Homo sapiens: one gene and its partners. The protein of the gene in region 1 interacts with the protein of each later gene in a pairwise test. Each region holds a gene or a part of one and is shown in the gene's direction. Other genes may lie near its edges.

The links.
Region 2: the proteins of CHAT (region 1) and CIMAP1D interact in binary tests that used the Homo sapiens proteins (3 or more experiments, as listed by UniProt).
Region 3: the proteins of CHAT (region 1) and FOXA3 interact in binary tests that used the Homo sapiens proteins (3 or more experiments, as listed by UniProt).
Region 4: the proteins of CHAT (region 1) and CCDC141 interact in binary tests that used the Homo sapiens proteins (3 or more experiments, as listed by UniProt).
Region 5: the proteins of CHAT (region 1) and TRIM69 interact in binary tests that used the Homo sapiens proteins (3 or more experiments, as listed by UniProt).
Region 6: the proteins of CHAT (region 1) and PPP1R16A interact in binary tests that used the Homo sapiens proteins (3 or more experiments, as listed by UniProt).
Region 7: the proteins of CHAT (region 1) and WT1 interact in binary tests that used the Homo sapiens proteins (3 or more experiments, as listed by UniProt).

What each region holds. Positions count from the first base shown.
Region 1 is NC_000010.11:49,612,598-49,616,836, forward strand, and holds the start of CHAT (choline O-acetyltransferase), read left to right. Parts: upstream 1-1,439; 5' UTR 1,440-1,592; coding exon 1,593-1,878; intron 1,879-3,425; exon of another isoform or gene 3,426-3,455; coding exon of another isoform or gene 3,456-3,495; intron 3,496-3,904; coding exon 3,905-4,005; intron 4,006-4,239. UniProt on the Homo sapiens protein: Catalyzes the reversible synthesis of acetylcholine (ACh) from acetyl CoA and choline at cholinergic synapses.
Region 2 is NC_000019.10:464,984-468,483, reverse strand, and holds part of CIMAP1D (protein CIMAP1D), read left to right. Parts: intron 1-721; coding exon 722-835; intron 836-3,500.
Region 3 is NC_000019.10:45,867,326-45,870,811, forward strand, and holds part of FOXA3 (hepatocyte nuclear factor 3-gamma), read left to right. Parts: intron 1-3,486. UniProt on the Homo sapiens protein: Transcription factor that is thought to act as a 'pioneer' factor opening the compacted chromatin for other proteins through interactions with nucleosomal core histones and thereby replacing linker histones at target enhancer and/or promoter sites.
Region 4 is NC_000002.12:178,865,138-178,868,637, reverse strand, and holds part of CCDC141 (coiled-coil domain-containing protein 141), read left to right. Parts: intron 1-432; coding exon 433-612; intron 613-2,721; coding exon 2,722-2,871; intron 2,872-3,500. UniProt on the Homo sapiens protein: Plays a critical role in cortical radial and GnRH neurons migration during brain development. Regulates cortical radial migration by negatively controlling the activity of histone deacetylase 6 (HDAC6) and promotes centrosome maturation.
Region 5 is NC_000015.10:44,764,028-44,767,527, forward strand, and holds part of TRIM69 (E3 ubiquitin-protein ligase TRIM69), read left to right. Parts: intron 1-3,203; coding exon 3,204-3,500.
Region 6 is NC_000008.11:144,480,982-144,484,481, forward strand, and holds part of PPP1R16A (protein phosphatase 1 regulatory subunit 16A), read left to right. Parts: intron 1-3,500. UniProt on the Homo sapiens protein: Inhibits protein phosphatase 1 activity toward phosphorylase, myosin light chain and myosin substrates.
Region 7 is NC_000011.10:32,425,540-32,429,039, reverse strand, and holds part of WT1 (Wilms tumor protein), read left to right. Parts: intron 1-420; coding exon 421-543; intron 544-981; coding exon 982-1,084; intron 1,085-3,500. UniProt on the Homo sapiens protein: Transcription factor that plays an important role in cellular development and cell survival. Recognizes and binds to the DNA sequence 5'-GCG(T/G)GGGCG-3'. Regulates the expression of numerous target genes, including EPO.

The sequences.
Region 1 (4,239 bases):
CTGCGGCTCCCCTGTGTAGAGCCTGCATCTGTCTGTCCTTCCTTCCATTGCTCCCAGTGCCAAACTTGGGCCGCTGCACCGCGGCGCCTCCGCCCAAATCAATAAACTGTGTCTGTCCCAGGAGGCCGAGTCTCTTTACTGGTGGGGGGTGCGTGGAGGCGCGCAGGGCCAGAGCAGAGGGGAGGGTGAACTGGGTCTCCAAGTCCCAATCCAGACCTAAGCCAAACTAACACGTAGGCACCTGTAGCTGTTTTTCTACCTGGAAAAGGGGATAGGAAGGAAGCAAACCCAACAAAGGCTGTCACCCACGGTCACCAAGGAGCACCATGCTCCCCTCAGCCCAGGATAGACCCTCTTTTCCAGGCCTAGCGCAGAGCCCGGGGATGCCGCCCGGGGGAGCCTGAGGACCCGCTCCAGCTAGGCACGCCAGGCCCCGCCCTTTGAGGACACGCCCCACACCAGCCTCAGAGCTCTGAGGTGCCTGGGCTGAGCTTCCCTTCAGACCAGAATCCCGCCCCGTTGAGGCTTTGAGAAAGGAGTAGGAGCCGAGCATTCCGGCAGAGGAAGAAAAACGGCCCATCTTTTAGAGTCCGACCTCTGGAAATGTGTGTATGATGTGATGTGTGTGTTCATTAGAGAACTTGTCCTAGGAGGAGTGGGGGAGCCGTGGTTGGTGTTTGCTGTATCCCTGTCAGTCCCGAGGGTCTGAGTCTTGAAGGGAGAGATGCGAGTGTGGGATCTGGTGCCAACCCCCACTGCCACCCTGTCCTGAGTGGGAGCAGCGGCCCAGGACTGTCAGGAAAGTTTCCCATCCTTAGTCCCAGCCCTGAGAGCCTCAAGCCAGCGTTCGCGCAACACTCCATGTCCCGAAGACCGTAGTCTGATGATCGAGGCAGAGTCTTCCCATCATAGCGTGAAGAGGCGGCTGGTCAGGGTCGCCTGTGTGTTAGCTGCGCCTGTGAGGGTCTGCTCTGCTGTTGTGCGCATGTCTGTCCTCGATCTGCGAGTCGGGCTGTGTGTGCCTGGGCGGAGTCTGCCTTTGTCGGTCTGTCTGTGCTATTTCTGTGTGGGGGTCTCTATCTGGGGTGGGGGATGCTTTTGTCTGAGAGGAGAGCCTGCCTCTTGCCGCAGTCCTTAAGCATCCTCAGGTCTGCCATCAGGATTGTCCCAAGTCTGTAGCACCCCACCTCTGCTCCCCACCCCATAGTGCCAGCAGGAATGGGATGGTAACAGAAAGGGAAGTCCTGCAGTGAATATTGATCCCAGTTATTGTTTCTTATTATTATTTTGAAAGATGGTGTAGCAGGGTTTGAGACTGGCCTGGATGGTGGGGAGAGGAGGGCAGCGAGCAGAGACTTCCTCAGACCCAACCCTCTCCAGGATTCAGCAGCAGCACCCCAAGGCTGGAATAATGGGGTTGGGGAAGTGCGGTGACTGGGAAATGCTGAGCTAGGGGCAGGAGGCATGGGCGGGACAGTGTTCTGTGCCCCCTTCTAGAGCCTAAATTTGTTGCCCGAGTTCCTCCGGGAAGCGCTCCGGGTAGATTCTGGGGGCCGGGAGCTGAGATCCCTGGGCGGGGAGCTGGGGAAGGGATGGGGCTGAGGACAGCGAAGAAGAGGGGGCTTGGGGGAGGGGGGAAATGGAAGAGAGAGGAGGGAGGAGGTACAAGAGGAAGGAGAGAAGTGCGGCCAGCTTGCTTTCTCCAGTCGGGTGGCCGCGGGGACCCGGGCGACGTCGGAGGCCCTGCCGGGAACCCAGGCTGCAGCCCCCACCCCCGCGCTGCGACACGCCCCCCACCCCTTCCGGCTCACACCCCCGCCCACACTCCTGAGTGGTGCGGTGCAGCGTCGGCCGAGGCAGCAGAGCCGAGGAGAGCAGGTGAGAAGAAGGGCTGGGCTGGGCTGGCGGAGCGCGGTGCCGGGAGCAAGGGCGGCGGTCGGGGGCTCTATCCAGGGACAGCACCGGGGCCGAGAGGCCCCAGGACTCGTGGAGTCCTCTGAGTCCTGCGCAGCAGCGGCCGTCGGGGGTCAGCTAGGAAGCTGCAGGATTGCGTTGCTTCGGTGCCTGGGCTTGGGGAGGCTTAACCATCAGGGCTTCGGGACTCCAAGCGCATGTTCTCACTTCACTTGGCCCAGCATCTGCTAAGTGACCAGGTCCGCGCTTTCTGTGTCTAGTCGGAGGGTCCTTGGGTCTGACCCGACTCGCCTGAATTGCTGGTTGGCAACCGCTTCTCCCGGGAGCAGGGGGTGGGGAAGGAGGAGCAGTGGCTGGTGGCAAGTCTGAGCCAGGACATAGCCGATGACAGCCTGTGAATGACCGGCCAGACTGGGGTTGGACCTTCGGGGCAGAGCAGGCAGCCCTTGGAAAGCCAGGCTGGCAGGAGCATGGGTGGGAGGCACAAAACACAAACAGACATATATACACATACATCCTCTAGGCATCTGCCCAGGAGTGATGGAGGAAGAAGAGTTGGTAGGTGGGACCACCAGGAAACCATCCCACCCAGCTCTGCCTTCTTCAAGCTCAGGGTCCCTGAAGCCTGACTAGTGTCTCCCGAATGGGGGGGAGGGGGGGGCTCTGGGCCAGAGCAAAAGGAGGCATTGGCTGCATGGTCTGTAGGGCCTTTACCAACCTGACCTTGTCCTTGCTGTCCTCTCAAAAGACTGCCATGCTCCGGTGAATCCTCACCAGGACGCCACCTCTTTCACTTTGCAGTTGGGGGCAGCCCCTACGAACCCACAGCACTGGGAGGCGTGGGAACAAGCCTGTGGAGAGTGTCCCTGCACTGTGCCAGCAAGGGCTTTACATTCTCTGCCCAGCACTGCAAGGCAGCCCCAGGCTCCTCCATCCTTGGGCCTGGTTCATCCATCTTTCTGGACTCTCTGTTCCTGGCAACAACCCTGCCAGGTGCCCATACATGGGCGGTGCTTGCCTCTGGGTAGGGGTGGTGTTGGGTGGGGAGAGGGGTGAGGAAATTAGCTAAACCTCAGCTTTAGACTTGAGAGAATAGAGGGTGGGCTGGTGGAAAACATGAGTATGTGCCTGTGGAGGCTTAGGTTCAGGGGGATCTCAGAGGGTAGCAATTGTGACCCACAGCCTAATAATAACAGTCTTTGCCCTCTTGGCCTGGCTCACTTCTACTGTACCTTCAAAATTAATCTGCCTCTCCCCAGACTAAGGCAGGTGGCCCCTAGGGGCCCTGGCTGCCCAGCCTCCCTGCATACCTCCCTGGGCACTCCTATGGCATCTACACTGGCAGCCTGCAGACCCGAGACTGCCTAGGTCACAACGCCTCCAGCAGGCCCAGAGTCTCCCTGCCCTGGCCACAGGCCAGGCTCCCAATTAGCCCAGATGCATCCTGGAGCACAGGGCCTTAAAGGCCTCCATTCACCCACGCATGCATTCCTTTCCCTCCACCAACGGAGTGAGGGAATTCACCCTACTCCACACCAGAGATGTGGCCGGAATGCAGAGATGAAGCACTGAGCACAGTAGGTATGGTCTTACCCTTGAGAAGCTAGTGGGAAAGAGAGAGTTTGATTGGCAAAGCACTTATCTATTGGGTTCCAGGCAGGAACAAAGGCAGCACTCTGCCAGCAACCCCTGGTGGATTTGGATTGCCCCAGGGTGGTCAGCTGGCCTTGGGTGACAACAGACTCATGAGAGCAGACCCTCACTTTAGGAACCACTCTCTCCCATATGGGGGCCCAGAGAGAACACTGTGGTCAGCACGTACAGGTGGAAGTAGAGACTGGGGCCACGCCTGCAATGAGACCCCTATACACAGCTGTCAGGCTCTGGCCTCCTCATGGGGCTGGGGTGGGGGTCTGTTGGCGGGAGGTGGAGGGTTTGTGACAGGCCTATGTGGCTGCTGTGTTGATGCTTCCCACTTCTTGGTCCCCAGGTCCACACCTCTGCATCCCTGCACCAGGACTCACCAAGACGCCCATCCTGGAAAAGGTCCCCCGTAAGATGGCAGCAAAAACTCCCAGCAGTGAGGAGTCTGTGAGTGACTTTTGGAGCCCTCTCTCAACCCTGCTTTCCCCACCTACATGCCCTTGCTTCTAGAACAGTCCTGAGTGGGACTGGCCCCCAGCATTTGCCTGGCCCCAGCCCTGCCCTCTACTGGCACAAGGCCCAGGCTACAGCTCCACCCCCAGCTTGCTGAGGATCCCAGAAGGGCCTGGAGGGGCTGAGACGGGCCTCAGGGTGCCAAGGAAATGCTAAGAGCTTAACTTC
Region 2 (3,500 bases), on another chromosome or scaffold:
TGAACGTGGTCCAACGCCGAGCCCCCCTCTTAAGCATGCGACCTGCCAGCAAGCCGAAGCCCTGGTTCAGAGCCTAGTCGCTCTTGTCACTCTTTATGTGCAGTTTTTTTTTTCTTTTGAGACTCCATCTTGCTCCGTCGCCCAGGCTGGAGTGCAGTGGCGCGATCACAGCTCACTGCAGCCTCAACCTCCCAGGCTCAAGTGATCCTCCCCCTTCAGCATTCCGAGGAGCTGGGACCCCAGGTGCATGTCAACATGTCTGGCTAAGTTTTAAATTTTTAGTAGAGACGGGATCTTGCTGTGTTGCCCATGCTGGTCTCAAAGTCCTGAGCTCAAGTGACCCTCCTGCCTCGGCCTCTGAAAGTGCTGGGATTACAGGTGTGCACCACCACACCCAGCCTAATTATGTCCAGTTCCAACAAACCCACGAGCTGGTTCTCCAGCCCACACCTGCGCAGAGGTTAGAGGGGCAGAGGTGGCTACAAACAGCAGCAGAGCAGAATCACTTTGACTGTGAGGAGACAGAGTCAGAGCAGAGACCTGAGGCACCCAGTTCAGGCAGCCACAACTCAGGGCCCCTGGGGTGACCCCTCCGAGATGGGACTGGGGTGGCCTCTGACCTGGTGGGAGTGTCTCGGGGCCAAGAGGGGCACTGAGGCCGGGCGGTGGGGCAGGCACTGTCTTCAGAATCACTCTCAGCACTCTGGGCTCCTCTCCCCAGCACCACCTCAGGACACCAGCCCGGGCCCCATCTACTTCTTGGACCCCAAAGTCACACGCTTTGGCCGCAGCTGCACCCCTGCCTACTCCATGCAGGGCCGGGCCAAGTCTCGGGGTGAGTACTGGAGCCAAGCAGCCGCACAAGGACCTGCTTTCCAGGGTCTCAGCGACTCTCCTGCCCTGTCCTCCCTCCCCCTCTTATCCTTGGAGTTCTTAGAATGCAGAGTCTTTGGAGTGATCAAATCCAAGGGACACGGAGGAGGGGCCGCCACTGCAGTGCCCACTGGGGCTGGGAGAACTGAATGAGTGAAGTGGGTCAGGATGACAGAGGCCCTGGGCACACATGGCCACAGAGGCAGCTGGCCTAGGTGTCAGGAGGTGAGAGGTGAATGGGGACTGTGGCAAATCGGCAGTATCCTTCACAGGCACCCAACAGTTTGCCCGCACACCTGACACACCTGCCTGACTCCATTCTCCCATCCACCTGCCCACTCACCCACCATCTATCCATCCACCCTCCACCCAACCATCTACCCACCCGTCCATCCACCCTCCACCAACCATCTTTCCACCCGTCCATCCATTCATCCATCCACCCACCCACCCAACCACCCACCCATCCATCTATCCACCCGCCCATCCACCCTCCACCCAACTATCTATCCACCCGTCCATCCACTCATCCATCCACCCACCCACCCACCCATCCATCTATCCACCCATCCTTCCACCCTCCACCCAACCATCTATCCACCCGTCCATACACTCATCCATCTACCCACCCACCCAACCACCCACCCATCCATCTATCCACCCGCCCATCCACCCTCCACCCAACCATCTATCCACCCGTCCATCCACCCTCCACCCAGCCATCTATCCACCCGTCCATCCACTCATCCATCCACCCACCCACCCACCCACCCATCCATCTATCCACCCATCCTTCCACCATCCACCCAACCATCTACCCATCCATCAATCCACTCATCCATCCACCCACCCAACCATCCACCCATCCACTCATCCATCTATCCACCCATCCATCCACCCTCCACCCAACCATCTATCCACCCGTCCATCCACTCATCCATCCACCCACCTACCCACCCACCCCTCCATCTATCCACCCATGCTTCTACCATCCACCCAAACATCTATCCATCCTTCAATCCACTCATCTATCCACCCACCTAGCATCCACCCTCCCAACCATCCACCCACCAACTCATCCATCTATCCACCCATCCATCCACCATCTACCTAACCATGTATCCACCCATCCATTCACTCATCCATCCACCCACCCACCCATCCAGCCATCTATCCACCCATCCATCCACCATCTACCTAACCTTGTATCCACCCATCCATTCACTCATCCATCCACCCACCCACCCACCCACCCATCTATCCACTCATCCATCCACCCTCCACCCAACCATCTATCCACCCATCCATCCACTCATCCATCCACCCACCCACCCATCCATCCACCATCTACCTAACCATGTATCCACCCATCCATCCACTCATCCATCCACCCACCCGCCCACCCACCCATCCATCTATCCACCCATCCATCTACCATCTACCTAACCATGTATCCACCCATCCATTCACTCATCCATCCACCCACCCACCCATCTATTCACCCATACATCCACCCTGCACCCAACCATCTATCCACCCTTCCATCTACTCATCCATCCACCCACCCATCCACCCACCCATCCATCTATCCACCCGTCCTTCCAGCATCCACCCAACCATCTATCCATCCATCAATCCACTCATCCATCCACCCACCTAGCATCCACCCACCCAACCATCCACCCATCCACTCATCCATCTATCCACCCATCCATCCACCCGCCCATCCACCCACCCATCCACCCACCCATCCATCCATCTATCCACACATCCATCCACCATCCACCCACCCACTCATCCATCCACCCACCTACCCATCTGTCCAGCTATCCACCCACCCACCCATCTATCCACCTACCCATCCATCTGTCCATCCTTTCACCTACCCACTCATTCATCTATCCACCCACCCACCCACACAACCATCTATCTGCCCATCCATCTACCCACCCACTCATCCCTCCACCCACCCATCCATCCACACACCCATCCACACACCGACCTGCACCCATCCACCCACCCACCTGCCTGCCCATCTACCTATCCACTCATCCATCTATCCATCCACCCACCTACCCATCTATCCACTCACCCATCCAGCCAACCATTCACCCATCCACTCACCCATCCACCCACCCACCCATCTATCCACCCACCCACTCATCCATCCAACCATCTACTCACCTACCCATCAATCCACACACCCATCCACCCGCCCATCCAACCACATACCCATCCATCCACCCATCCACCTACCCATTCATCCATCCACTCACTCATCCATCCATCCATCTACACATCCATCCATCCCCCATCCACCCACTCATCATCCATCCATCCATCCATCCATCCACCCATCCACCCGCCCCTCCTTCCACCATCCACCCAACATTCTATCCACCCATCCATCCACTCATCCATTGACCCACCTAGCATCTACCCACCCAGCCATCCACCCACCCACCCATCCATCCATCCACTCATCAACCCATCCATCCATCCACCCACTCACCCATCCACCTATCCATCCTTCCACCCACCCATCCATCCATCCATCATCTATCCACCCATCCACTCACTCATCCATCCATCCATCCGCCCACCCTCCCACCCATTCAGCCACCCAC
Region 3 (3,486 bases), on another chromosome or scaffold:
GAGAGCCTGCATGGGGGAAGGGAGTAACTGTGGCTGCAATTTCACTGTAAGACTTGGGGTGAGGGGGAATGGATTTGTTGAAGGGAGGGAGATAGATAGATAGATAGATAGATAGATAGATAGATAGATAGATGCATGGATGGATGGATAGATAGATTGATAGGAAGATGGTGGCTCGTCATGGTAGCTCATGACTGTAATCCCAGCACTTTGGGAGGCCGAAGAGGGTGGATCACTTGAGGTCAGGAGTTCAAGACCAGGCTGGCCAACATGGTGAAACCCCATCTCTACTAAAAATACAAAACTTAGCTGGGCATGGTGGTGCATGCCTATAATCCCAGTTACTTGGGAGGCTGAGACAGGAGAATTGCTTGAACCCAGGAGGCGGAGGTTGCAGTGAGCCGAGATGGAGCCACTGCACTCCAGCCTGGGTGACAGAGTGAGACTCTATCTCAAAAAAAAAAAAAAAAAAAGACAAGAAGATGGGCTGAAGGAGGAAGAAAGGTGGGAGTTGGGGTTGGGAGGGGAGTGGGGTAGAGTCGGATAGTGAGAGAGAGTGCCCAGGAAGGGAGAAAGAGATGGAAGGATGGAGAGAGAGACAGGGGCCGAGATGGAGGGGAAAGAAAGATGGGAGAGGACTCGGGAGGGGTCGAGGGTGGGCAGGAAGAGCAAAAGAGGTTAGGGTGGAGACAGAAGGGAAAACAATGCGGGGGTGGGGAGGGAGATGGGAGAGGGGAATATGGGTACTAGTACTGAGACGGGTAACACAACGGCAAAAATAGCCAACAGAGATTCAAAGAGACATGATGAAAGAGTTCCTTGGAGAGACATGAAAAGGAAAGAGCAGAGGATTTCTCGACTGGAACTCAGACTTAGGGTTGAGTTGGTTGCCTCCACTCTCTGATTCCCTAAGCCACCCTGGCCAGACTCGTTTCTCCGGACCTTGTGACCTGCAGAAGCTTACAGTGGTAGGGCCAGACATGGTGGCTCATGGCTATAATCCCAACACTTTGGGAGGCCGAGGCAGGAGGATCACCTGAGGTCAGGAGTTCGAGACTAGCCTGACCAACATGGTGAAACCCTGTCTTTACTAAAAATACAAAAACTAGCTGAGTGTTGTGGTGCGTGCCCGTAATCCCAGCTGCTCGGGAGGCTGAGGCAGGAGAATCGCTTGAACCTGGGAGGCAGAAGTTGCAGTGAGCTGAGATTGCACCACTGCACTCCAGCCTGGGCGATACAGTGAGACTCTCTTAAAAAAAAAAAAAAAAAAAAGCTTACAGTGGCAGGAGACTAGGCGGTATCCAGTTAACTCACATTTGGTGGCTCTAGCCAGTGCTGTATATAGCAGCATTCCCCCACCCACGCAGTGCCATGAGACCCCAGGCCTCGGAGGAGGCAGTGGGGAAAGGTCCAGGTGGAGAATGGGGCAGAGAGGATGGGAGACAGTGGTTGAGAAGGGATAAGTAGATACAAAGAAAGAAACAACCTTCCAGCATGCCTATGTTTTCCTGGCGTGTTCTGTTCACTGTTGTGTTCCTGCTAGACTGTTGGCACCACGAGGGCAGGCATTTCTGTCTGTCTTAGTCACTGCTTTTATTTTATTTTATGATTATTATTTTTTGAGATGGAGTCTTGCTCTGTTGCCCAGGCTGGAGGCAGTGGCACGATCTTGGCTCACCACAACCTCTGCCTCCTGGGTTCAAGCAATTCTCCTGCCTCAGCCTCCCTAGTAGCTGGGATTGCAGGCATGTGCCACCATGCCCGGCTAATTTTGTATTTTTAGTGGAGACGGGGTTTCTCCCTGTTGGTCAGGCTGGTCTCGAACTCCCGACCTCAAGCGATCCGCACCCCCACCCCCCCCACCTCAGCCTCCCAAAGTGCTGGGATTACAGGCGTGAGCCACCGCAACTGGCCTAGTCACTGCGTTTATAGCGTGACCCGGAACAGGTCTGGAGCCAGACTGCCTGGTTGCAGAATCCCAGTTCTGCCCCCATTCTTGCTGTGTGACCCCAGCAACCTCTCTGGGCCTCAGCTAGCTCAGCTGTAAAATGGGCATCATCATAACACCTCCTCCCATAGTATGGTTGTCAAGATTAAAGGAGACCATTCTTGTGAAGTGCTTGGAGCAGCTAACTGATAAATATTGGTTGAATGAATGAAAGAATATACAGAGGGTTACTTAGGAGGCACTGCAAGATCTACCGTGTTCCATTGACCTAGGATGCACCTTTTCCCCCCATTTGAACATTTCCAAAAATGGGATGCATTTTACAGTCAACAGTGTCCTATGATTTTAACTGAGTGTTTTTCCCATTTGTATTAATATATAAAGTAATGCTGCAGCTTCCAGAGAAGTCTTAGATTTGAAGATATATAGTAAATGGATAATATTATTAGGTTGAAAAGTGATTTCTGATATTCAAACACTTTTATGTATAAATACAGTAATTTATTTTTATTTATTTATTTTTTTTTTTTGAGACAGAGTCTTGCTCTGTCGCCCAGGCTGGAGGGCAGTGGTGCAATCTCGGCTCACTGCAACCTCCACCTTCTGGGTGCAAGCAATTCTCCTGCCTCAGCCTCCTGAATAGCTGGGACTACAGGCGCCCGCCACCATACCTGGCTATTTTTTGTGTTTTTAGTAGAGACAGGGTTTTGCCATGTTGGCCAGGCTGGTCTCGAACTCCTGACCTCAAGTGATCCACCTGCCTCGGCCTCCCAAAGTGCTGGGATTACAGGTGTGAGCCACTGTGCCCAGCCTAAATGCAGTAATTTTATAAGCTAAAAGATTGAAGAGAGCTACACATATATGTTAGATATGTTAGATTATTACAGAGTTATAATAACTTTTTTTTTTTTTTTTTGAGACAGAATCTCACTGTCGCCCAGGCTGGAGTGCAGTGGCATGATCTCAGCTCACTGCAAGCTCCACCTTCCGGGTTCACGCCATTCTCCTGCCTCAGCCTCCCAAGTAGCTGGGACTACAGGCGTTCGCCACCACACCCGGCTAATTTTGTTTTTGTATTTTTAGTAGAGACAGGGTTTCACCGTGTTAGCCAAGATGGTCTCGATCTCCTGACCTTGTGATCCACCTGCCTCGGCCTCCCAAAGTGCTGGGATTACAGGTGTGAGCCACCGTGCCCGGCCTATAATAACTCTTTATGATTACTAAAATTGAGAACTGCTGATTTACCTAATAAACCAGCAGTTATTAAATGTTTTGGTCTCAGGACCACCCCCCTTCTTTTTTTTTTTTTTTTGAGATGGAGTCTTGCTCTGTTGTCCTGGCTGGAGTGTGCAGTGGCATGATCTCAGCTCACCGCAGCCTCAGACTCCTGGGCTCAAGCGATCCTCCTGCCTCAACCTCCCGAGTAGCTGGGATTACAGTCCTGTGCCACGATGCCGGCTGATTTTTGTATTTTTGGTAGATAACAGGGTTTTGCCACGTTGCCAGGCTGGTCTTGAACTTCTGACCTCAAGTGATTC
Region 4 (3,500 bases), on another chromosome or scaffold:
CAAGTTAGATTTTTTTTTTTTTTTTTTTTGCACTTCAAGTACCTGACATCATGGAGTGCTATTTGTTGGTGGCATTTTTACAAAAACTTCATAGTTATGGTCTCTATTAACATAAGATGGAGGAATATTCGTTAATATCCCTTTAAAATAGCCTCTAAATTTACTCAGAGCACAGACCTAGATCTTGCTAAGGTTTTGGGTCATGACCAAAAAGACTGTTTCCTTCTTTAATGGAACTGACAACGTTAGCAGTTCAATTTTACCACCATTGGATTTGCAGCATTCTAACATTTATTTGGCTAATGCCAACAGTTTAAAGATGGGCTTGGCAGCATTTCGACCAGCTAGCAAAATGTGCTATAGAAATTAGGCTTAAAAAAAAATTTGTCTTCATATAAAACCCAGGTTAATTGTTAATGCCCTAAATTGTAGCTGGGACGTCTCATCAAATCAAGAGAGCTGGAGTTTGTAGAGCAGCCGAAGGAACTGGGTGATGCCCATGATGTGCAGATTCACCTCCGGTGCTCTCAGGAAAAGCAAGCCCGTGTAGACCATCTCCACAGACTGGCCCTTTCCTTAGGAGTCGACATCATCTCATCAGTGCAGCGGCCTGTAAGCATCTAATAACACTATCATTTAGACTCAGTTCTAGCTGGGGCTTGGGCTAGCATATGAAAGAAACCAGGCAGATTGCTTAGTATATGTTAAATTTAAAAATAAACTAAACCATTGGGGTAGTTATTTGTGATTCATTTCTACCCTCTGACAAAAGAAAAAATTTTAAGTAGAAAATCTGAATGTAAAAGTCTTGTTGAATACCTCTATTTTCATGAAAAAAAATTTTTAAAGAGTATTTATATAGTAGATCTGTATAGTCCAGTGTGGCAGTCACTTTTTTGCCTTTGATGTGTGCCTAATGCAACTAAAAAACTAAAGTTTTAATTTTATTTAACTTGCATTAATTTAAATATAAATTTAAAAATTGATCTTCAGTATAGTTATGGGACAACTTTTAAGTATGTTGGGAGCAATTTGGGTATGGGAATCAACTTTCGAAACTGTAAATTTAAAAAATTAAAATACAGATCTAATATTTCTGATCGAAATTTAGCAACAAATGAGGAAGCTCAAAGTATGAAATACACACCAGATTTCAAAGAGGTATTATGAAAAGCAATCACATTAGTATTTTTTATATTACTTACATGTTAAAATGGTGATATTTGGACATAGTTGGTTATTGTATTATAAAAATTAATTTTGCTCTATCTTTTTATTTGATTTTTTGATATGACTACTAGACAATTTTAAATTGTTTGTGTGGTTCACATTTTGTTGGCCAGTGCTGTTTTAGCATTGCAGATCTGGAAGACCATCTAGATCTTAGAGTTCATCCAGGCCAGAGCTATCATTTTATGGATGAAGAATTTGAGGCAAACAGAAATTCCCACCTTACCCATAAAAGCCCAGAATGGAGGAGTCCAAGCCTCCTGATTCTAGCCAGGGCTGGTTGGATTTGTTTGATGCCACTGTCGGACTTCAAAAGAGAGGCCTAAAAGAGAAGGAAATATTCCCAGATCAAATTTTCATCAATAATACACTGGACATTGATTCTTTAAAAAAATTCCTTCTTTAGCCTGGGCACATTGGCTAATGCCTGTAATCCCAGCACTTTAGGAGGCCGAGAAGTTCAAGTCCAGCCTGGCCAACATGGCAAAACTCCGTCTCTACTAAAAATACAACAATTAGCCAGGCGTGGTATTACGTGCCTGTAATCCCAATTACTTGGGAGGCTGAGGCAGAAGAATCGCTTGAACCCAGGAGGCGGAGGTTGCAGTGAGTTGAGATCCAGCCATTGCACTCCAGCCTGGGCGACAGAGTAAATAAGACTCCATCTCAAAAAAACAAAACAAAACAAAAAAACAGAAACAACAACAACAACAAAACAAAACAAAAAAATCCTTTTCCAGATTTCTAACTTGAGGGGAGAAAAGATTATGTTTACTCTAACAATAGGTATAACATTAATAAAATCATAATGGCCCATTTTATTTTAAAATACATGTAAGATATCCACTAAACTATATGAAATGCAGTGAATCTAAAATATGTATTTTTTAAACTGAAAGATATAGAAATACAAATTATCTGTTGTTGTTAATGGAATTGGTTTTTTGCCAGGAAAGAGCTTTCTTTTTAAAGAGTTTATTTTATTAGTACATTTATTTTTAAAAGAAAAAGAAAGCAAGAAGTCTCACTTTGTGCAAATAATGTAAATTGTTCTCCAATCCTCTTCTGGCCTTGGCCCTGGCAGCCCCACTGTGCTGAGCTGAGATTGGAGCACTTGCATAATGAACCTGAGGTTAGGCTCAAGTTGACAGGAAAATTATAGTGCAGAAATCAAATGTTTCTAATGCATATTTTATGCCTTTTGAAGTAAAAATTATACCCTATAATGAATGGCGTCTCTGAGGAGTTGGGTGTGATGAGCGAATCTTCAACACTAGAGATTTGAGCTGGGAAATGTCTTTTCCATAATGTTGGGTGACTGGCTTCTTTCTGAAATAATTATGTTCAAATATGTTTAAGGTAAAATAAATCAGGAACCTATTTCTTTTTTTAAAAAGTGTCATTTATGAGTTTCATAATTCAGGTAAATAGCCTACTCGTCTTATTGCTGTTTCGTCCTTTCTCTCTGTTACCACCATTTGTCTCTTTTAGCACTGCTCTAATGTTTCTGCAAAGAACCTACAGCAGCAGCTGGAGCTCCTTGAGGAGGACAGCATGAAGTGGCGTGCCAAAGCTGAGGAGTATGGACGGACCCTGTCCCGTAGTGTGGAGTACTGCGCCATGAGAGACGAGATAAATGAGGTGGGTGTGGGAGGGGTGAGAACTGGCACATTGCCAAAAAGCTGTTTGAACCTAAAGCATGTGTCTAAATGTCCACATTTGTGCACACTCCCACACACATGCAAACACACAATGAATCAGGAGACTTTCTTCTCACTTATTTCTTTTAATCCACTGAGCAGTGACCTCAGGGATCTGGAAGTTTGAGTAAACTTCAAGCTCTCAAATTTGTTGAAGTCAGTATGATGTCAATGCATAGAAAAACCTATAATTCAGTAGTACAGTTTTTTTGGTTGCTTTTGTTTATTTGTTTTTTGCTTCCCCCTTCTCCCTCAAACCTGTATAGCAGTCATTTGCTTCAGTGGATACAGCTTTTTCAGGACCCAGAGGAAGGGGTGACATTGACCAGTTCGTTGCAGCCAACTCCAGCCTGCTGAAATTCTATTTAAGGGTCATTGACTCATGGTGAATCAATGGTGCCAGGGGCCAGGGAGCAGACACTTTGCTTTGGAGGCTACGAAGTATTAGCACTGAGGTCAAGTGGCTGGTTTCATATTTATTCAAACTGACTGGCTTTTCTGGCAAAACAACTCTTCAAGAAAAAAGAAATAACAGATCAAAGTGATCTTCTACATCCATGCACCTCCACA
Region 5 (3,500 bases), on another chromosome or scaffold:
TTCACTGCATGCATGTGCAGATTAGTACTCAGCCACAGCCTTGAGAGAATCCCTTTGTAGATGTTTGTAAGTTTCTGTGAAGTTCCCTCCTCTGTGTTACTCTGCTTAGCAAATTGTAGCTGCCTTGGTATGACAGAGTTTTTCTTCCTGTATACTTTGCTCTGTAAAGCCAAACTTCACTTCTAGCAATCTTTTAAAATGCAAACTGATTTTTAAATTTTTGGTATAATTTTACATCAAGAAAACCAAATGAGATTTATTTAATATATGACTATTTATTAATAATGTATTATTTATCCATATACTCTCCCTCTATACAGAGTGGGAAATTGTTTTTCTATGGTAACTGTGGTCAGACCTTTGTAAAATATATTCCATACTTTTTATTTCTAAGTCTTTGCTTATTTTGTAGATCCATATATTCTCCTTTTCTGCCAGCCTTATAAATTAGGCTGTTGCTTTAGAGCAGGAGCTGGCACTTTTCTGTAAAGGTTTGAAGAGTAAATATTTTAGGCCTTGCAGGTGTATGGTCTTTGTTGCTGCTACTTAACTCTGCTCTTGTAGTGAAAAAGAAGCTACAGACAACATATAAATGAATGGTCATAAATGTGCTCCAATAAAACTTTACTTACAAAGTAGGCAGTGGGTCAGATTTGACCTGTTGGTTGTAGTTTGCCTACTCTAGCTTAGGGAATTTTTCAATTTAAAATATTTGCATGAACAAATGCCCAAATAATGTGGAGTGAACCATATGGGGAAAAAGCATTCTAGGACAAGGGAAGAAATTATAAGGACCCTGAAGTAGGAATGATCTTCATTATGTTCAAGGAACTGCCAAAAGACAAGGGTGGATGAATCAAAGTAAATGAGGGAAAGTGTGGTAGGAGATGAAGTAGAGAGGTAGGTAAATCATGTGGCTCTTTTTTCCTCTATAAGGACTCTGGATTTTATCTCAGATGTGATGGTAAACATAAGAGTATGCTGAGCAGGGAAATGGCTTGATCTCATTCATGATATGTGTAGAATAGGGTGCAGATGGGCAAGAGAGGAAACAGAAGAGTAAAAAGCTATTGCAGTAGTTCCAGGCCAGTGATATTTCTGGAAGTAGTCAGAAGTGTTTGGGCACAAGATATATTTTGAAGGTGGAGCTGACAGAACTTTTCGTTATATGAACGTGGCATGAGAAGGAAAGAGAGGACAAAAAGCTGACTCATGGGAATCTTCAGAGCCAGTGCAGGCTGAACTAGCTAGAGATGTGTCAGAGGCTTAGCAAAGAGAGCAGAGTGGGATTCCAAAACGTTGCTAAAAAGTCTTTATGGTACCTCCAAAGAAAACCCAGTCCTCACATCAGAAAGATTAACAACCCAAAGTGAATGGGGATATGTAAGGGGATAGGGATTTAGCCTATATGGAAAAATTCAAGATTCTTAATTCTTCAAAGCCTCTTGTTGGAAAGAGAAGTCCCTGGGATAATGGAAAAGACTCAGGCTTTTCTGAGAAGATAGAGTTAGACTAGAGTTCATGACTAGCCTGGCCAACATGGTGAAATCCTGTCTCTACTAAAATTACAAAAAATATCAGCTGAGCGTGGTGGTGCATGCCTGTAATCCTAGCTACTCAGGAGGCTGAAGCAGGAGAATTGCTTGAACCCAGGAGGCGGAGGTTGCAGTGAGCCGAGGTTGTGCCACTGCACTCCAGCCTGGGGGACAGAGCAAGAATCTATCTCAAAAAAAACAAAACAAAACAAACAAACAAACAAAAAAAAAACAGAGAGAGAGAAACTAGATTGATTCTGCTTCCAAGGATAAATAAATCCAATAACAACAAATGCATGCATACATGTATCTGTGTCCATGGTGTGCACACACATAGCTATTAGGTCTCCTTTATCAAATTTCATGTCAAGGTCCAATGATCTCACATCTGGAATTTGTGTCATCCTCTTGCTGGTCAGCTTTCAACCTCTCTTCATTTAGTTTAGATATTCTTTTTTATACTGCTGCCCTTTGAATTGTCTAAACCAATGCTTGTAAAATTATCTGTGATGAAGGGCCAATCAAAAAAATCTCAATCTGTCATGGACTGATACTTTTGTAGAATACAATATAAATTACTTGAAAAAGTAAAATTAAAAAAAGCAAAGATTACAAAGTACAAGCCCAATTTTGTAATTATTAGATTCAACTGACATAAAATTACTGTCAATTTGCTATGAAAGTTTTTAAAAGTTTACTGTTAATTTCTATACTATCTTTGTCCGAGACTGTTAACCACATGGTATGTGGACCACATTATGAGTAGCAATGACATAAACCACTCTAGATCTCAAAAATCTCATTATCTGTTAAACCAAAATAAACCTCTCACTATTGTCCTCTAAACTCTGTACCAGTTAGTTCAGTCTTGCCTGTGTCTAACAGGCAAGCTCTTGTGTTCTCTTCCACACAGGGGACTGTTTTTAATCCATTTCTTTCTTTCCGTTTATTCAAAACATCCTAAATACATCTCATGTATATACAACTGAATACTTACCTTCCTCAGAAAGCTTTCCTAGAACATCCTTACCTAATTTTTACCCCTTTGGCATTTGTATTTTCTTATATTTATTAGTATAGGTTTATATTATTTGTATTGTTTCCTTTAGTAGAGCATAAATTACTTCTGAGTAAACCCTGATTTTTACCCTAAATATAAAAATGTCTAGAATATAGTAACATGGATACCCAAACAATAAAAAGCATGTAAGTGGCCAGGTGCGGTGGCTCATGCCTGTAATCTCAGCACTTTGAGAGGCCTAGGCAGGTGGGTTGCTTGGGGCCAGGAGTTCAAGGCCAGTCTGGCCAACATGGCGAAACCCTGTCTCTACTAAAAAATTACAAAGATTAGCCAGGTGTGGTGGCACACACCTGTAATCCCAGCTATTTGGGGGGCTGAGGCACGAGAATTGCTTGAACCCAGGAAGCGGAGGTTGCAGTGAGCCGAGATCGCACCACTGCACTCCAGCCCTGGGCAACCTTGTCTGCCTCAAAAAAAAAAAAAAAAAAAAAAAAAAAAAAAGCATATAAGTAATTGCTTGCCTGTCTAAGAGTCTATGTGTATGGGGAGATAAAGTACTATTGAATATGAAATACTATCTTTTACTGTGGGAATTTGTGTTTACCCCCCTTTCTCCCATGCTCTGCTTTCTTTTATTTTCTTACTAGGCCTGTCTCCACTAACTCTGGACCCTAAAACAGCTCACCCAAATCTGGTGCTCTCCAAAAGCCAAACCAGCGTCTGGCATGGTGACATTAAGAAGATAATGCCTGATGATCCTGAGAGGTTTGACTCAAGTGTGGCTGTACTGGGCTCAAGAGGCTTCACCTCTGGAAAGTGGTACTGGGAAGTAGAAGTAGCAAAGAAGACAAAATGGACAGTTGGAGTTGTCAGAGAATCCATCATTCGGAAGGGCAGCTGTCCTCTAACTCCTGAGCAAGGATTCTGGCTTTTAAGACTAAGGA
Region 6 (3,500 bases), on another chromosome or scaffold:
GGGTTCACACCATTCTCCTGCCTCAGCCTCCCAAGTAGCTGGGACTACAGGCGCCCACCACCACGCCCGGCTAATTTTTTGTATTTTTTTAGTAGAGTCGGGGTTTCACCATGTTAGCCAGGATGGTCTCGATCTCCTGACCTCGTGATCCGCCCGCCTCGGCCTCCCAAAGTGCTGGGATTACAGGCGTGACCACCGCGCCCGGCCTGTTTGATGGGTTTTGTGAACAACGTCATAATCCAAATATAAAACATTTCCGTTGCCCCCAAAAGTTCTCTCGTGCTCCTCTGTGGTAAGCCCTTCCTCACACCCAGCCCAGGCAATAGTGATCGCTTTCTATTACTGTAGGTTTGGCGTCCCTTTTTAAGAATTTCACATTGGCTGGGCGTGGGGGCTCACGCCTGTAATCCCAGCACTTTGGGAGGCTGAGGCGGGTGGATCATCTGAGGTTGGGAGTTCGAGACCAGCCTGACCACCATGGAGAAACCCTGTCTCTACTAAAAATACAAAAAGTTAGCCAGGCATGGTGGCGCATGCCTGTAATTCCAGCTACTCGGGAGGCTGAGGTAGGAGAATCCCTTGAACGTGGGAGGCGGAGGTTGCGGTGAGCCGAGATCGCACCATTGCACTCTAGCCTGGGCAAAAAGAGCGAAACTCCATCTCAAAAAATAAAATAATTTCACATCAATGGAATCATATGGAATGAATACTTTTGTGTCTGATTTATTTTGCCAGATGACAATGTTTTAGAGATTCAAGTGGTTTTGTGTATCCGTAGTTGATTCCCTTTTTCTTTTTTCTTTTTTGTTTTTTTGAGACAGAGTCTTGCTCTGTTGCCCAGGCGGGAGTGCAGTGGCACGATCTTGGCTCACCGCATCCTCCGCCTGCCAGGTTCAAGCAATTCTCCTGCCTCAGCCTTCTGAGTAGCTGGGACTACAGGCGCCTGCCACCATGCCCTGCTAATTTTTTGTATTTTTAGTAGAGACAGGGTTTCACCATGCTGGCCAGGCTGGTCTCGAACTCCTGACCTCGTATCCGCCCGCCTTGGCCTCCCAAAGTGCTGGGATTACCAGTGTGAGCCACTGTGCCCGGCTGCCGCCGCCGCCGCCGCCGCCTTTTTTTTTGAGATGGAGTCTTGCCAAGTGCAGTGGTGTCATCTCGGCTCATTGCAGCCTTGGCCTCCCGGGTTCAAGCGATTCTTCTGCCTCAGCCTCCCAAGTAGCTGGGACTGTAGGCATGTACCACCACACCCAGCTAATTTTTGTATTTTTAGTAGAGACGGGGTTTCTCCATGTTGGCCAGACTACCTGAAGTGATCTGCCTGCCTCAGCCTCCCAAAGTGCTGGGATTATAGGCATGAGCCACCGCTCCTGGCCAGTTTATAGTTTTCTTATTTTTTATTTTATTTTTATTTACTTATTTTTGAGATGGAGTCTTGCTCTGTTGCTCAGGCTGGAGTGCAGTGGCACAATCTTGGCTCACTGCAACCTCCACCTCCTGGGTTTAAGCAGTTCTCCCTGCCTCAACCTCCCGGGTTTAAGCAGTTCTCCCTGCCTCAACCTCCCGGGTTTAAGCATTTCTCCCTGCCTCAACCTCCCGGGTTTAAGCAGTTCTCCCTGCCTCAACCTCCCGAGTAGCTGGGACTACAGGCACATGCCAGCATGCCCAGCTAACTTTTTTTTTTTTTTTTTTTGGGACAGTCTCACTCTATCGCCAGGCTAGAGTGCAGTGATCTAGGCTCACTGCAACCTCTGCCTCCTGGGTTCAAGCGATTCTCCTGCCTCAGCCTCCCGAGTAGCTGGGACTACAGGCGCCCGCCACCACGTCCAGCTGATTTTTGTAATTTTAGTAGAGACGGGTTTCACCATGTTGGCCAGGATGGTCTTGAGCTCCTGACCTCATGGTCCACCCGCCTCAGCCTCCCAAAGTGCTGGGATTACAGGCGTGAGCCACCGCGCCCGGCTTATTTTTTTGTATTTTTAGTAGAGACGGGTTTTTGCCATTTTGGCCAGGCTGGTCTTGAACTCCTGACCTCAGGTGATCCGCCCCCCTCAACTCCCAAAGTGCTGGAATTACAGGTGTGAGCCACCGCGCCCGGCCCAACTTTCATTTCTTTTGCGTATGTACCCAGAAGTAGGATATGCCTTCTTTTTTATGTTGTGTGGCTGACAGAGTTACGTTCTGTTCTGTAACGATGTTCACATGTCAGTCTTTCTATCTACAGAACCAGGCAGTGTGTGTAAAGTAGGTTTCCTCATCTGTGGGTCCAGTGTCCCAATTCCTGCCTCCTACAAATGATGTTCTTGGCTGGCTTCAAGTTCAAAGGCTTTCCTCCTGTTTCATGCATCATCAGTCTCCTTCATCACGTGAATTTTTTGAACTTTGTCATCCTATGTGTTGTGTCGTTCTGTTTTCTTTATTTCTTTTTATTTATTCATTTATTTTTGAGACGAAGTCTTGCTCTGTCGCCCAGGCTGGAGTGCAGTGGCACCATCTTGGCTCACTGCAACCTCTGCCTCCTGGATTCAAGTGATTCTCGTGCCTCAGCTTCCTGAGTAGCTGAGACTACAGGTGCATGCCGCCACGACCGGCTTTTGTATTTTTAGTAGAAATGGGGTTTTACCCTGTTGGTCAGGCTGGTCTCGAACTCTTGACCTCAGGTGATCCACCCGCCTTGGCCTCCCAAAGTGCTGGGATTACAGGCATGAGCCACTGCGCCCGGTCTCTTTTTTTTTTTGAGACAGAGTCTTGCTCTGTTGCCCAGGCTGGAGAGCAGTGGTGTGATTAGAGATCACTGCAGCCTCAAACTCCTGGGTTCAAGCAATCCTCCTGCTTTGGCCTCCCATATGTTGGGATTATAGGCGTGAGCCACCATGCCCAGCCCTTCCCTGTTTTCTTTTTCCTTGGCCACCTTCCCCTGCTCATCTCTCTGCTCTGACAGCTCCTACCATCTTTCCTTCCAACTTCTAGGAATGTGCTGGCTGACTGTGAGCTCTCTTTCTTGGAAATGCCTTTCCAGCTCCTGTCCCAGGCTCACAGGCATCTCAGTGGCTTACTGTGTCACCTGCGCCCTAGGTTGGTTGTCTAGACCCCACACCTCTGTTGTCCTAAGGCTGGGGACCCTCACGGTCCCAGTGCTGCCTCCTTCCACACTCCCAGGCCCTGTGCCACTGGCACGTCTGTCCGCAGGTCCCCTTCCCACAGCCCCACCTAGACCGAAAGGTCTGTGTCTCTGTGAGGAAGTGAATACCGAGTCAGAGCAAATCCTGGGTTACAGCGCCGACCCCTCTGAAGCTCACTTTTGTGATTTTGGTTTCCTCACCATTGTACTTGACAGACCTTAGTTGCCACATCTACTCCGTGGGGGTTATGGCCCATTAGAGCTATGAGGCTGAATGAGGCAGTTCATAGGGAAGGCTGCTTGTGGCCCTGGCTTCTAGAAAGGTGTGATTTGCAGGGGCTGCTAGGAGCCCTCCCTGCCCTCTCTTCCCTTTCTTTTG
Region 7 (3,500 bases), on another chromosome or scaffold:
TTAGCCCAGCAGATTCATTTCGCTTGCCCGCGCTGCTCCTGCGGAAGAGCTGCAGTTTATTTTTGGGGGGTGAACAACCTTCTCTGTCGATCAGGCAACGAGTTTTATACTTAATTTGCCAGGGGTTCGCTGCAGAAGCGGCAGAGACCGTAGAAGACTGCGGCATAAATAAATTGGGAAAAAGCGAGGTGGGGGTTTTAGTCAGAAAAGGATGGAGAAGCCTGTCCCAAGGTCACATCCAGGGACTTGGGCCGTCTTCCTGCCGAAAGTCCTGGAGGCTTGTGGGGCTGGATTCTCCTCCGCTGGGGGTCCGAATGCGGGGTTCAGCGCACACCCCCCCCGCCCGTGGCTGGTTCAGACCCACTGCCCCGTCTTGCGAGAGCACCGCTGACACTGTGCTTCTCTCCGCCGCTCCCGCAGGTTACAGCACGGTCACCTTCGACGGGACGCCCAGCTACGGTCACACGCCCTCGCACCATGCGGCGCAGTTCCCCAACCACTCATTCAAGCATGAGGATCCCATGGGCCAGCAGGGCTCGCTGGGTAAGCGAGCGGAACCAAGTGGAGTCCTTCTCCCCTTCTTCCGTGCTATCCTCCTCTCCCCCAGGAATTCCTAACCCACAGCAAATTAGGCAAAGGAGGACATCTAAAAGGACCTTAGAAATCATTACCCCAATGGCACTGTATTTAAAGGACAAGACTGGGTCTCCCTCCATCCCAAGTACGTTAGGGACATCGCCATCCAACTAAGTCTATGAATGTCCGGAGGGCCTTTTTGGTGCACAGCGCAGCGACTGCTAGGGGAATGCAAAGTGAGAGGCTTAGCTTCTTGCATTCTGGACGGCCTCGCTCTGCACGCCGCTCATCCAGGCCCCAGTGCCCCAGGCTCAGGATCTCGTGTCTCCCCCAACCCCTGCCCGCAGCCTCGCACCCCGAGCCCTTGGGGCGCACTCGCTCAGCTGTCTTCGGTTCTCTCTGCAGGTGAGCAGCAGTACTCGGTGCCGCCCCCGGTCTATGGCTGCCACACCCCCACCGACAGCTGCACCGGCAGCCAGGCTTTGCTGCTGAGGACGCCCTACAGCAGGTAGGAAGGCGCTGGGCTCTGCGTCTGGGTCCTTGGGACCCCGGAGGGGACGCATGAGCCGGCGGACTTGGGAACGCCCCAGCCGGGCAGCCCTGACTGCGGGCATGCAGGGTCTTGGAGGCACGAGACGCCTCGACTCCACTCTACTACTTAGAGGAAATTAAAGCTGATCTCCCTGGTCTCTGAGTTGTTCTTATGTTGTATAAAAATGAGGACAATTACTCTTTCGAGCTGAAGAAGGAGCGGCGCTCGAGAAGTTATTATTTTTAGAAGGTCTTTACTGGGAGGAATTTACCTTCATCGGGACTAAATATTAAACACGGAGTCCACTCCCACTCGGTTCTGAGACCTCAAACCCATCCAATGGCCACACCGGCCAGACTACCTCGAAGGCGCGTACCTTCGGCCACAGCCTTGGCCACAGCCTTCTCCCCACCTCAACCCTCCAGGGTTTCGACCCGTGGCAGCGCTTTGTGGACGTCGTTCCCAGCGCCCCTGCTACGCTCTGGGGTGGGCCCCCGGCCGGGGTGCAGGACGGAGATCGGGTCGCAACAGGGCCCTGCGGGGAGGCTGCTCTGGCCCGCGTGGGACCTTCTTCCTGTGAGCGGGAGGCCCAAGGCCAGCTTCATTCCCTTCCAAGCTTTTCCCCGCTCCGTGCTTCCTCTTCTCGCCTCTCGCTCCACCTTCTCTCCCCCAAATTTTTTCTTCAACTTTGGGTGAACTTGGCCGGCCGCCCGCGTCTGCGATAGGGTTGCCTAGTAACTGCGGCGCACACCAGCCCGCACGGGGCTGGAAGTTGGGGCGGGGGCCGGGGAGCAGCAGCGCGAGGCCTGTGCGGCCCGGGATTGGGCGCGCATGACCTCATAGCCCCCTCCTCCCTGGTGCTCGGGGATCCTGACACCGGCTGCCCCCAAACCCATCCCCATCCTCCCTCCCCTCCGCGCGGGGACCCGGGGCTGACGTCAAGGGAAGGAGGTAGTGAGGTCATGAAGGAAGGAAAAGCGCCTGCCCTGGGAGATTGGGTGGGGGAGTGGCCGCGCCTGGGGGACTGTCCAGTCCCGCAGGTGGAGGAGGGGCGGGAGTCCTCGATCCGGAGCGAGGCGCAGCCCCAGGCCCTTGCTGCCTTTACGAGAGTGAGCCCGGGGCTGGCCTGGCTCTCGCATCTAAGGTTCTCCTTCCCGGGAGTTTCTAGAGAGGTGCAGGGATGCGCCCCTTCTATTTCTAACGCCTGAGGCGCGCGGACTGGAGAAACCTTTTTTTTTCCTTTTTTTCCCCCGGAACATCCGGTTTATCTATTCGAAACTTGGATTCCTCATCACACTTTTTTTGGGCGGGTGGAGGCAGGCGGTGGGCAAGAACACCAATGGTCGCACCTCCCCATCCTTCTTTTTCTGCGTCCCTAGCTAGAAATCATTCCTGTTCTGCACCACAGGCGCGGCATGCTGCCCCAAGCCTGCCACCTCAGCGCCTCCCTTCGGTGGGTAAAGTCTTTGGAATGGGGGCAGGATTCGCACCTATTCTCTGAGGTGAATCTCCTTCCCTAGCAAAACTGGCAGCGGGGCCATTGCCATTCTTCTTGTGTAGCTGCTCCTGCCCATTGCCAGGGTGTCATTGCTGTTATTCTAGTAGCCATCAGGCGGGCTGTTGGAATGGTTCCCACGTAATGACCTTGGTCCACCCCTTCCTCCTTAGCTCCCTGTGGACTCAGTTGGTGTGTCACACTAGGCTGAGAGAAGACCTTGATGCGGGAGTGGGCACTGTCGATATGGGAGGTGTTCTTGGGGGTTGGGGACTGGAAGACCTTGCAGTCTGGTGCCTCAGTGACTCGAAGCTACACACACATCCGTTACTTCCCTCTCCCAAGCCGAGACTCACCCTGTGGGACCCTAGGAAGGGGTCCATCAGAGGACCTGGCAGCCTTGAAAGAGGAGTCCAGGAAAAAGCGATCATTACCACTGGTTTAATAGCAATTCTCCAGGGTGCCTATGGTGGATTTTGACTTAGGTCTGATTTTGTGGTTGCTAGGGAAGTAGGAAACATCACATAAATTTTCACGTTTTCTAATCCAGCTTCTGATTGGCCACTGTATTAAGCACTTCATCAAATTCACCTTTCAGAAGTATTTGTTTATTTCTATCTTCTTTCTTTATAATTGAGGAACTTTCTTTGGTCCTGTTATTTTTACACAAATCCAATAAAAATACTATTTTTCCCTCTCACAGAAAATTTCCCAAGTAGTAACATCTCAAAAAAGAATTTGTGACCCCTGTAGGAAGAGTTTGTTCCCTTGGAATTTGTGCTGTCTGGATCTTGAAAGCTCCATTCACTCTAAATTAACATTTCCATTCAGTTTTCAAAGATCATGTGCTTCCCTTGCAGTCTAAAGATGAATGGGCAGGTGTAGGAATGTTTTAAA